Linked DNA regions of Homo sapiens. The protein of the gene in region 2 purifies or fractionates together with the protein of the main gene of each other region. This does not show direct contact. Each region holds a gene or a part of one and is shown on either strand. Other genes may lie near its edges.

The links.
Region 1: the proteins of RETREG1 (region 2) and MAP1LC3B2 purify together in Homo sapiens (affinity purification with mass spectrometry; 3 studies listed by BioGRID and IntAct, with this or other methods). This does not show direct contact.
Region 3: the proteins of RETREG1 (region 2) and USP24 purify together in Homo sapiens (affinity purification with mass spectrometry, with the first as the bait; one study listed by BioGRID). This does not show direct contact.

What each region holds. Positions count from the first base shown.
Region 1 is NC_000012.12:116,558,144-116,562,291, forward strand, and holds the start of MAP1LC3B2 (microtubule-associated protein 1 light chain 3 beta 2), read left to right. Parts: upstream 1-1,237; 5' UTR 1,238-1,290; intron 1,291-4,148. UniProt on the Homo sapiens protein: Ubiquitin-like modifier involved in formation of autophagosomal vacuoles (autophagosomes).
Region 2 is NC_000005.10:16,473,880-16,477,531, reverse strand, and holds part of RETREG1 (reticulophagy regulator 1), read left to right. Parts: intron 1-2,297; coding exon 2,298-2,791; 3' UTR 2,792-3,652. UniProt on the Homo sapiens protein: Endoplasmic reticulum (ER)-anchored autophagy regulator which mediates ER delivery into lysosomes through sequestration into autophagosomes.
Region 3 is NC_000001.11:55,093,213-55,096,864, reverse strand, and holds part of USP24 (ubiquitin carboxyl-terminal hydrolase 24), read left to right. Parts: intron 1-242; coding exon 243-367; intron 368-1,468; coding exon 1,469-1,610; intron 1,611-2,777; coding exon 2,778-2,928; intron 2,929-3,652. UniProt on the Homo sapiens protein: Ubiquitin-specific protease that regulates cell survival in various contexts through modulating the protein stability of some of its substrates including DDB2, MCL1 or TP53.

The DNA.
Region 1 (4,148 bases), on a different chromosome or scaffold from region 2:
AAGAAACACCTTCTATTTTTTTTTTTTTTTTTTTTTTTTAGAGACAGGGTCTTGCTCTGTCACCCAGGCTGCAGCCTGGACCTCTTGGGCTCAAGGGATCCTCCCACCTTAGCCTCCTGTGTAGCTGGGACCACAGGCGTGCACCGCCACACCCAGCTAATTTTTTTTATTTTTTTGCAGAGATGGGGTCTCTCTATGTTGCCCAGGCTGGCCTCAAACTCCTGGGCTCAAGTGATCCTCCCTTCTCGGCCTCCCAAAGTACTGGGATTACAGGGGTGAGCCACCTCACCTGTACAGCTTCTTTGGAGAATGGGCCTGGGCAGGTCAAACAGGGGCCACTCTACACCATCATGGCACAGCAAGAGCTGGGCTATGTAGGTTCAGTATTCTTTGTCATTTAATCCTTGTGACGACCTCGTGTCATCATTGCTGTTTTACAGATAAGGAACTGAGGCTCAGAGAGGTTCAGTGTCACAGCTAGCATTTCACTTACATATCACAGAGCAAAGGCTCTCTTTGTCCAGAGACAACGTGCCTTTAGGTGATAGAGCTAGGACTGGAACCCAAGTCTATCTGACTCAAAGTCCACACAGCTTGTCCCCCATCCCGCAGGGACCTCTCCACGCTAGTGAGCCCCACGAAACCCCCTCAGTGCTTCGTTCCAGTCTTTTACCTTCAAGCCCAGTCAGCGAGTTCTTTATTTCCACAAATGGTGCTATTAAACTAATGGCTTCGGGAGCTATAGGCTGGCCTCGGCACAGTTACACATCTCTCCACCCACCATGTTCTGGCTTCCAAATAAATACATTGGAAATTCCAGGAGCCGAAGCCCATTTGGAAACGTTTCCGGGCCACCATTTTGCTTTGGGATGGGCAAGAAGAGACACCCTAAACTTGAACTCCTGTCTGTGCAGCCTCCAGCCGGCCAGGCGCTAAATAAGGCCACGGCCCGTTTCCTCCTTCAAAAGTCCCTTGTAAAGGGCGATAGCAGACCCCATCAGGCAAAAAGCTGAGAAGCCAGGGTTGAAATAGAGGCCTCTTTCTGTTTGGTCAATCAGCAGCTGCAAAGGATGCGTAGGATGGAGCTAAATTTATTTGTTCCTTTCTTTCTCAGCAACAGCGACGAGGCCCGAGGTGCAGCTGTCTCGCCTCGCCTGTCTTTTGCAGGCACCGGCATGCACAGAAGATGGCTCTCCGGGAGGAAGATTCCTTTCCATTTTGTTCTCTCTCTGCCTCCGCAAGGCTCGCAGCCACCTCTCGGGAGTGCAGGGCCAGATCCTGTGCCAGCGGGTAGGAATATGTAGCTGCCTCCCAGCCCCAGGGTGGAAATCATGACCTTTGAGAAGCAGGCAAGCTGCACGGCATAGATACTCAGGCCTGGTGAAGGCAAAGTGGGGCCACACCCTAGAAAAACCACAAAAGTCCCCACAGCCTCTGCTTTCACTAGTCAGACCTGTGGGAAACTTGTAAGACACAGTCCATGTGATCGGCGGGTGGGGGCATGTTGGGAGGGGCCTTCCGAAGGCCACAGCCAGGCTGGCAGGGCAGAGTCCTTTCCAGAATTTATCTGTTTGCTTAAAGCCCAGCGGAGGGGCCACCTTCAGTCAACCCTCCAGCATACTGGTCCAAGTAGTTTTTTCAAAGTGCTTTGTGAGACTTTCAAAAGGTACCCATGGGGAGGGAAGTGAGAGGAGGAGGAGGGGACGGTGAAGAAACAGCTTCTTTATTTCTAGCCTTGCTTGAATGGCTTCTTGACGGTTACTGCTCCAGTTTTGCTGAGTCAGAAGAATCCCACAGCCGCTCACCGGAAACACAGCTGTTGGGCAAAAATAACCACAGAGCTGAGCATCATGCACCTTCCAGAAAAGATGGCAGAAAACCTCAAAACAAAAGAGAAATACAAAACAATAGGAGACACTGTCAAGAAAAAAAAAACAAAAACAAAAACCACCGCAGCTCACTAACCGATCCAAGCTGGTGGCGCTCTCCTGATCTCTCTCCACTCCCAGGCCCAGCAACGGCTCTGAAATAAAGCTAAGTTTGGCTATATATATATATATATATATATATATATATATATATATATATATATATATATGTATGTATATGTATATATATATATTTAGATAGAGTCTTCCTCTGTCGCCCAGGCTGGAATGCAGTGGCGCGCTCTCGGCTCGCTGCAACCTCTGCCTCCTGGGTTCAAGTGATTCTCCTGCCTCAGCCTTCCGACTAGCTGGGATTACAGGTGCGCCACCACGCCCAGCTAATTTTTGTATTTTTAGTAGAGACGAGGTTTCGCCATGTTGGCCAGGCTGGTCTCGAACTCCTGACCTCAAGTGATCCGCCCACCTCGGCCTCCCAAAGTCTTGGGATTACAGGTGTGAACCATCACATCTGGCCTACTTTTACACTGTAGTGGGTTTAATAGTGTCTCCCCAGTCACACCTCCACCAAAAAAAGAAAAGATATGTCCACAGTCTAATGTGCTGCAGCACCTGTGAATGTGACCTTAATGGAGAAAGGATCTTTGCAGGTGTAAATTAATTTTAGGATCTCAAGATTGAATCATCCTAGACTACCTGGGTGGACCTCAAATCCAATGACAGGTATCCTTATAAAAGGAAGGCAGATCCAGCTTGGGCAACATAGGGAGACCCTGTTTCTACAAATAGTTTAAAAAAAAAAAAAGGCTGGGCATAGTGGCTTACACCTCTAATCCCAGCACCTTGGGAGTCCAAGGTGGGCAGGTCACTTGAGGCCAGGAGTTCAAGACCAGCTTGCCCAATATGGCTTAACCCCATCTCTACTAAAACTACAAAAATTAGCTGGGCATGGTAGTGTATGCCTGTAGTCCCCGCTACTTGGGAGGCTGAGACACAAGAATCACTTGAATCCGGGAAGCAGAGGTTGCAGTGAGCTGAGATTGTGCCACTGTACTCCAGCTTGGGCAACAGAGCACGACTCCATCTCAGAAAAAAAGCTGTGGGGGACAGTGGTGTGTGCCTGTGGTCCCAGCTACTTGTGAGGCTGAGACAGGAGGATCTCTTGAGCCCAGAAGTTCGAGGCTGCAGTGAGCTATGATGGCACCACTGTACTCCAGCCTGGGTGACCAAGTGAGACCCTGTCTCAAAATAAAAAAAAAAAAGTGTGGCAGAGGTAGATGGGTAGATTAGACACACAGAGAGGAAGTCCCAGAGGAACTTGGAAGTGAGGATTGGAGTTTTGCAGCTACAAACCAAGGATATTAGGGCACTCATAAGAAACTAACAGAGCCACCCCAGGCTTCTGTTTACCAGGTCCTCCCCTGGCCATCTCCTTCCCCTTGTCTGGGCTGAAAACATTCACAGCATCTTGTTTGCGTGGACACCGAGTTTCCCTTTCCCCAGACTTCATAACGATCAGGAAGCAGGATGGGGCCTTGAGGACTCCCGAGACTAAGGGAGGAGTCGAGGGTCCCTGGTTGTAGATAAGTCTTGGCCACAGGCCAGGAGTGTGACCTCATTAACCAGCAGCCATTAGCCATTCACTGAGGCAGCTGGATCCTGGTTCTGCCCCTTACTAGCTGTGTGGCCTGGGGTAAGGTATTTACCCTCCCTGGGCCTCTGTCTCCTCATCTGTCCAATGGAGATAATTAGAAAACTTCCCTTACACAGTTGTTGTAAGGATGGAGCAAGTACATGCAAAGCTGTTCTTGAACGAGGCTGGACTCTGTGCTTCTTATTGTCCAGTGCTTTACACAAGTGTAGTAAGGCTATTGTTTTTCCCTGTCAGCATCTATGACACTATCTTTTGCTTCAGCATCCTGGCTTGCCTTCGGGAGACCATCTCTCTTCCACCCCCTCATTCCAGGAGAGGGTATATCACCCAGACCTGACCAGTCAGACTCAGCTCAGTTCAGGGATGGGAATGTGATCCAAAGTGGGTCCATCAGAGCAAATAGTTGCCGAAACTCGTAGGGAAAAGAAATTCACTTTCTCTTGGTTCCACTATGTGGTGGGATATGAGCGTGGAGCATCTCTGCTGCTACCTAGGGAGAGGCTGCCTGAGACCGATGCCAAAACCCCAGAAAGCAGAGATAAAAGATAGTGGGAGAGTCCTGACAACAATATTTGTATCCCTGGATCCACCTGTGCCTGAAACCATCC
Region 2 (3,652 bases):
AAATGAAGTCCTGATACTTGCTACAACATGGATGAACCTTGAAAACATGCTAAGAAGCCAGACACAAAATGCCACATACTGTGTAATTCCATTTATATGAAATGCCTAGAATAAGCAGGTCCATATAAAGGGAAATTAAGTTAGTGGCTGCTATGGACTGATGGAGGGAATAGTGAGTGACTGTTAATTGGTATGCATTTCTTTTTGGAGTGATGAAAGTGTCCTAGAATTAGATAGTGATGCTGCTTGTACAGCTTTATGAATATACTAAAAAACACTGAATTGTATACCTTAGAAGGGTGTTTTTTTGGTGCATGAATTATCAAAAGCTGTTTTTTAAAAAGTATGAGGAAAATAAATCAGTCAATGTCCAAATTTGCCTTTATTTTGAAAACAAAATAATCAAAAATTAGAAAAATTACCTCCTGAAATGTCTTTGAAATGTCCCAAGCGATAATGTGGGAGAGAAAGATAGACGCTAATCCTACACATTTAGGCCTAGTCCTCATTAAAAGGGGCTGAAGTATGGACGTCAAGTTCCCTGAGTCCAAAGCTGACTCCGGAGTTTCTCACATTTGTCTTCAAAGTTAAAAAAGCTTTTTATTTTTATTTTTTTTGTTTCTGACTTTTAAGTTCAGGGGTACATGTGCAGGATGTGCAAGTCTGTTACATAGGTCAACATGTGCCATGGTGGTTTGCATCCCATCACCTAGGTATTAAGCCCAGCATCGATTAGCTATTTTTCTTGATGCTCTCCCTCCTCCCACCCCCAACCCTATTGACAGGCCCCAGTGTGTGCTGTTCCCCACCATTGTGTCTATGTGTTCTCATTATTCAGCTTCCACTTACAGGTGAGAACAGGCAGTGTGTTTGGTTTTCTGTTCCTGTGTTAGTTTGCCGAGGATAATGGCTTCCAGCTCCATCCATGTCCTTGCAAAGGACATGATCTCGTTCCTTTTTATGGCTGCATAGTATTCCATGGTGTATGTGTACCACATTTTCTTTATCCAGTATATTCTTTGTTTATAATAAGTACAATTAAAAACAGGAAAGCACAGTATTCTTTATAATGCAAATTATGTCCAAAACTTAAATTGAGAGTCAATGCTTGTACAGTAACTTAACTTTTGTTAGTCTCACTGGATTACCTTGTTTTGGCCATATACTGAACATATGAGCAGATTATAAAGGAGGAGGGTGAATGAACTATTTTACACTTATGTTCCAAAAGGACATTTTCTGTTTTTAAAGGAAGGAGGGAGGGAGGCTGTGCAGTGTTTGAAAGAAGATGGGTTTGGAAGGTGGAAGACCCAAGTGGAGTCTTGCCTTTGTCACTACCTAACTTTATGACCTTGAACGGGTGACATAATTTTTGTGGATCTCAATTTCCTCACCTTTAAATTAGAACAGGAGCATTGCTGAAGGTCATTCAAGCTCTACAAGCTTTCAGTACCTACAATTTGAGGTCATATTTTAAAGAACAAGAATAACAAGTACCTTGTTCTTAAGCATCCCATCTCAGATTCAACAAAAGAGACAATAATAATCCAAGCCACATACAAGGCTTTTCATTAATTGAAGATTTCAAATCACTGTTGCAGGGAGTTAACTGTTATATTAAAAGATTTTATATGAAAGGTAAAAACAATAAAATCTATTAGCCTTCTAATGTGACATTGCTTTCAAATGTCCTAAATCTTGGTATGGTCAGTTTCAGCTATAGTTATAGAGAGCCAAATGTTTCCATAAACTCTTGGGTTATATGGAATAGAAGGAGCAGTATCTTCCTTTCATTGCTTAAAACAAACACAGATTACAGGCACTGAAATAGATCTCTATGTATGAAAATGCTGAGGCTGGATAATATTAACCAAAACCCAAGGAAACTTATTATAGTATTTTAAATTTCATGTACATGTGTACTCATTGGCTTAAGATAATTCCCACCCTAGGCGCAGGATGGGGAATTTTTATAGTAAATGCTTAAACTTTAGTCAAAACCTCAAGCTAATATCAGACAAAGGTGAATGTTAAGTCAGTAAATACACTGTTTTGTGCTTAAGAGGAAAGCTAAATATGGAGAGGGATGTGTAGTATTTGTGTCCCTGTGGAGAAAGAGTGTTGCAGGATTAGGAGGAGTTCAGTATGTGGTTAAATTGATTCAAGTTGACCCAGGAGGCTAGATGAATGCCAAGGTTGCCAGAGGGTTCAGATTAAAGTCAGATATCTTTAGACAGCACTTTTATTTGAAATTTGTTATGGTGCTTCAGTCTGAACTTCTGTTATCCATTTCACAGATCTTGACCGACCCAGTGAGGAAGTTTTCTCTAGAGATCTTTCAGATTTTCCATCTCTAGAAAATGGCATGGGAACAAATGATGAAGATGAATTAAGCCTTGGTTTGCCCACTGAGCTCAAGAGAAAGAAGGAACAGTTGGACAGTGGTCACAGACCAAGCAAAGAGACGCAATCAGCAGCTGGTCTCACCCTTCCTCTGAACAGTGACCAAACCTTTCACCTGATGAGCAACCTGGCTGGGGATGTTATCACAGCTGCAGTGACTGCAGCTATCAAAGACCAGTTAGAGGGTGTGCAGCAAGCACTTTCTCAGGCTGCCCCCATCCCAGAAGAGGACACAGACACTGAAGAAGGTGATGACTTTGAACTACTTGACCAGTCAGAGCTGGATCAAATTGAGAGTGAATTGGGACTTACACAAGACCAGGAAGCAGAAGCACAGCAAAATAAGAAGTCTTCAGGTTTCCTTTCAAATCTGCTGGGAGGCCATTAATCTAGGAATCAGCTTGCAACAGAGCACAAAAAACACCAAAAAAATTTCAAACAAGAAAAAAAAAAAAAAAAGGAAAAGAAAAAAATTGAACTGTAAGCTTTAATGATTACTTTAGATTTGTTTTATTTTCCCTCCTGCAGTGAATTAATTGGATATATATCAGCTGACACTGATAGATTGATATTTCTGATCGTTATTTTTGTGTAATAAGCATGGAAATGAACTTTATACACACCACTGTGTTGTCAGAGATAAATATTAGGGGTTGTTTTTAAAGCAAAAAGAAAAAAACAAAAACCAAACTATTAAAATCCTCCTATAAATATTCTTTTTCTTTACAGTTTTTCAAGCATGCAAAACAGTTTATTGTAACTTACTGAAAAATATTAACAATTAATTGTGAATACATGCTGTTACCAGCTTCCTTATTCCTAATACCTGGAAAATTTTTTTTTCAACGGATAGATTTTGATGTAAAAAAGACCGAAATTATCAAGGTATCTTAGTTGAAGGACTTGGGAAATACTATCAAAATTAATTTCTTAGGAAAAAATTTAAAAGTATATTTAAGTACTCTGGATAGACTGAAACGTTTCCATGTTATTTCTGCAGTTGTAGACTTAGGCTTATTTGTAAAGAAGCATGCTCCATTGACTGCCATCTCTAGTCTTGCAGTGGGTGGTATTAACCCATAGAAAGCAAGCAGTTGTGTATCACATAGACAATGGTTATGATGTAAACAGATTCAGTTGTTTTGTTGTTCATTCGTCATATGTTTGTGATAGGGATGTTGGGAGCACAGCTCTATTCTGCCTGCTCAGACTTAAGTTAGACCCTTATCTTTTATATTATGTCATGAAA
Region 3 (3,652 bases), on a different chromosome or scaffold from region 2:
CACTTTGGCATTGTTCTTGACTGTGTTTCATTTTGAAGTTTTAAAGCTTCGTGCAACTGGTTTTACCCCTTCAATTTGAAAAGTTGTTTTAGAAATTGAAATAATTGTTGCTACATATTTCTTAGATATTTTCAAATGGTAAACACCTGCTTTATTTGTAGACAATACATTGAGATCAATGCTAAGGATGAGGAGGTTGATTTTTTTAACCTTATAATGTTTGTCTGATCTCTGGGTTCTAGAGGGTGTGGAAAAGGAAAGTGGTATAAATTTAATGACACAGTTATAGAAGAATTTGACCTAAATGACGAGACCCTGGAGTATGAATGCTTTGGAGGAGAATATAGACCAAAAGTTTATGATCAAAGTAAGTATTTACAAATGGATATTTTCCATTAGTTTTTTTATTTATCGTTTTCTATAAAAATTAATAGTATTCTTTATATAAAAACACAACAGATTTTGTTATTTTTATTGTACTACTGTTCTAGCAATAGAACCATGAGCAAGCTCTTTAATAACCAAAGTGAAAATGTTCAAGCTGTTTATAAAAATTTTTTTAAATAATTTCTTACAACAACCTTGAGGGATAGGTAGGGGAGCTGGGAGTAAGTTAAAAGGATGAAATGAGCATCAGAGAGAAAGTAATGAATACTGAAATTGAACCTTAAAAATAGTTTTGGAAGTAGTTATCCATTAAAATTTTCAGATTTCCTTTTCACTTATGTAGAGGTGTGACTAATTAGAGAAGACATTTCTAGCACCTGTGTTTTTAAAACCATATTTATTATGCAGTGTGGCAAAGCAGTCTTTCCCTCTACAATCCCCACTCCCAGGAAAAAAGAGTATGAGGAGAAGTACAGCCCAATCAGAACTTGCTATTTGATAAAAAGCTATTTGGTGGAGACCTTAGCATTTCAGAAACCTGATTTTGAAATCTTCTAGTGGTATTTCTAAATTTTTAGCTGTATTGGATTCACTGTATTAGATTTTGATACCATGCCATTATAGTTAAGCATCTTATGGTGGTAACCTTTAAGAGTTGGATATAGTATTGTCAGAATTTGCCTGGATTTGGCCGATCTTGGCAGAAATGGTTAAGTGAGGCCAGTTATCCCATCTTGTGCCACAGAACATATTTTTAAATGTCACTTGCTATTTGCTTACATTTAGACCTCCCTAGGATACTTACCTTCTTTCTCTTACTCCATTACCATACTGCTCCCTTATTCCTTGTCCCCACCTATATCACTTCCAAGTGAGAGATCCAGCTAGGCCCACAACTGAAGTATCCTGACTTCCATGCTAAGCAGTACTCTAAAGACACTCACATTTTACTTATACTTTGCATTTTACAAACTTAGGGAGTAGTTAACTACTTGCTGGAATAATGGGCCCTTTGTTTTAGATTGTCAAGACAAGAAAAACTTTTATTTACAGATGTGTTTCTTAATGTCTTGTTATAAAGCAAACCCATACACTGATGTGCGCCGAAGATACTGGAATGCCTATATGCTTTTCTACCAAAGGGTGTCTGATCAGAACTCCCCAGTATTACCAAAGAAAAGTCGAGTCAGCGTTGTACGGCAGGAAGCTGAGGATCTCTCTCTGTAAGTGTCTCTTCCATGTAATTTGCTGTGTGATTTCTATGGTGATGATGTGGTCTGTGACAATATACTATTTGAGATTTTAAAGATAATTAGCTAAGCTGGAGAGAAATTCTAAAAAGAATTCCAAAAAGAAAATAAATCCCTTATTGCTTCATGGTTATTTTCTTGGCAAGAAGTTGTTACATATTTAGAAACATGCACGTAAGTTATTTCATTCTAGAATTGAAGTGTTTTGTTTTTTGTTTTTTTGAGACAGTGTGGTCTCACTCTGTCACCCAGGCTGGAGTGCAGTGGCATGATCATAGCTCACTGCAGCCTCGACCTCCCAGGCTGAAGCGATCCTTCCACCTCAGCCTCTTGAATAGCTGGGACCACAGGCGAGGGGCACCAGGCCCAGATATTTGGTTTGTCTGTTTTTTGTAAAGATAAGGTCTCCCAATGTTGCCCAGGCTGGTCTGGAACTCCTGGGCTCAAGCAATACTCCCATCTAGGCCTCCCAAAGTGCTGGGATTATAGGCATAAGTCACCATACCTGGACTTTTTTTTTTTTTTTTTTTTAATGTTAGCAGCATTTGTTGAATACACTTTTTGTCCAAAGCATAATGCTATGCCAACACTGTCAGAATGTTGTTGTTTTTTAAAGGTCCTATTGTCAGTGAATTTGCCTTTTAATATATTGGGTCAGGAAAGTGTTTACTTTTTCATGTGAGAAATATGACTATATGTGTTTTATTAAATTTGAAAACTTGGTTCAATACTTTGTTCTTACACGACTTTGAGTGTGTGGCTCTAAGATAAGTTTATTTCACTGCTTTTTTAATGGCTGGGAAAGATATCTCACAATAATATGAAGGAAGAATTCATTTTGTGCTTAAATGTTAAATCTCATATGCCACTTAAGTAAAAATTTGTGTTAAATTTGCCCTGCACTATTTTATCTTCTATAATGTCAATCAGTTCTCCCAACTAATTAGAAAGTATTGCATTTTTAATTTCTTAATTGTTACATTATGATTGTATATATTTATGTGGTACAGTTTTATGTTTCGATACATGTATAATAATCAAATAGTCTAATACCCGTTTATGTGAATTTGGCAAGTCTTAGTAACTACTGAAAAAATAGCCACTTTATACTAGACAGAGTTTTCTGATTCTATCTCTTAGGTCAGCTCCATCTTCACCAGAAATTTCACCTCAGTCATCCCCTCGGCCCCATAGGCCGAACAATGACCGGCTGTCTATTCTTACCAAGCTGGTTAAAAAAGGCGAGAAGAAAGGACTGTTTGTGGAGAAAATGCCTGCTCGAATATACCAGGTAAGAACCATATAAAAAATTCTAAGGGGGAATATCCACGTGGACATCAAAATGTATCTAGTAGGTCCAGAAGTACTTCTGCTGGATTAGTTGTACCACTGGGGCTACATCGTCTTACACACTTGTCTCATGAACCTTTTATGCCACGACACAGAGGGGGCCATAGAGCTAGAGCCATGGAGTGCTAAGAACACAAGTATGAATACACACTCATGATTGGCAGGCACAATCACTGACCTGCTCTGTGAGTGTGAAATGTCACAAATAAACAGAGTTGTGGGGAGTGGGCAGTAAAGAAATCGTGTTGCTGAAATAAACTTATTTTGTCTGGAGAGAAAAACAAGTTAAGGTTCATAACCTTTGAGTGGGACTAATAAAACAATCATTGGCCATTATTTATTGAACACCTACTGTGTGCTACGTGCTTTAAGCACATCTTTAATTTGTAAAAGATTATTATGCAGTATCAGGTTTTATTCTCATTTTTTGGATGGAAAAACAGGTTCAGAAAAGAAGAAGTATGTGCCAGTGTCACAGGACAAGGATCTAAATTCAGAACTGTCTACTCAGTCCAGACTTTATACACTAATTAATCAAAAGCTCAGTAGCTAGAACAAGAGAATTTGAGAAAAATATCGAGTCTTACATTAAGAAAGAAAGAGAATTAAGCCATCTGACATAAAGGAAGCATGGAGTTGGTTGTGCTTGGGAGAGCTCTGTTTAT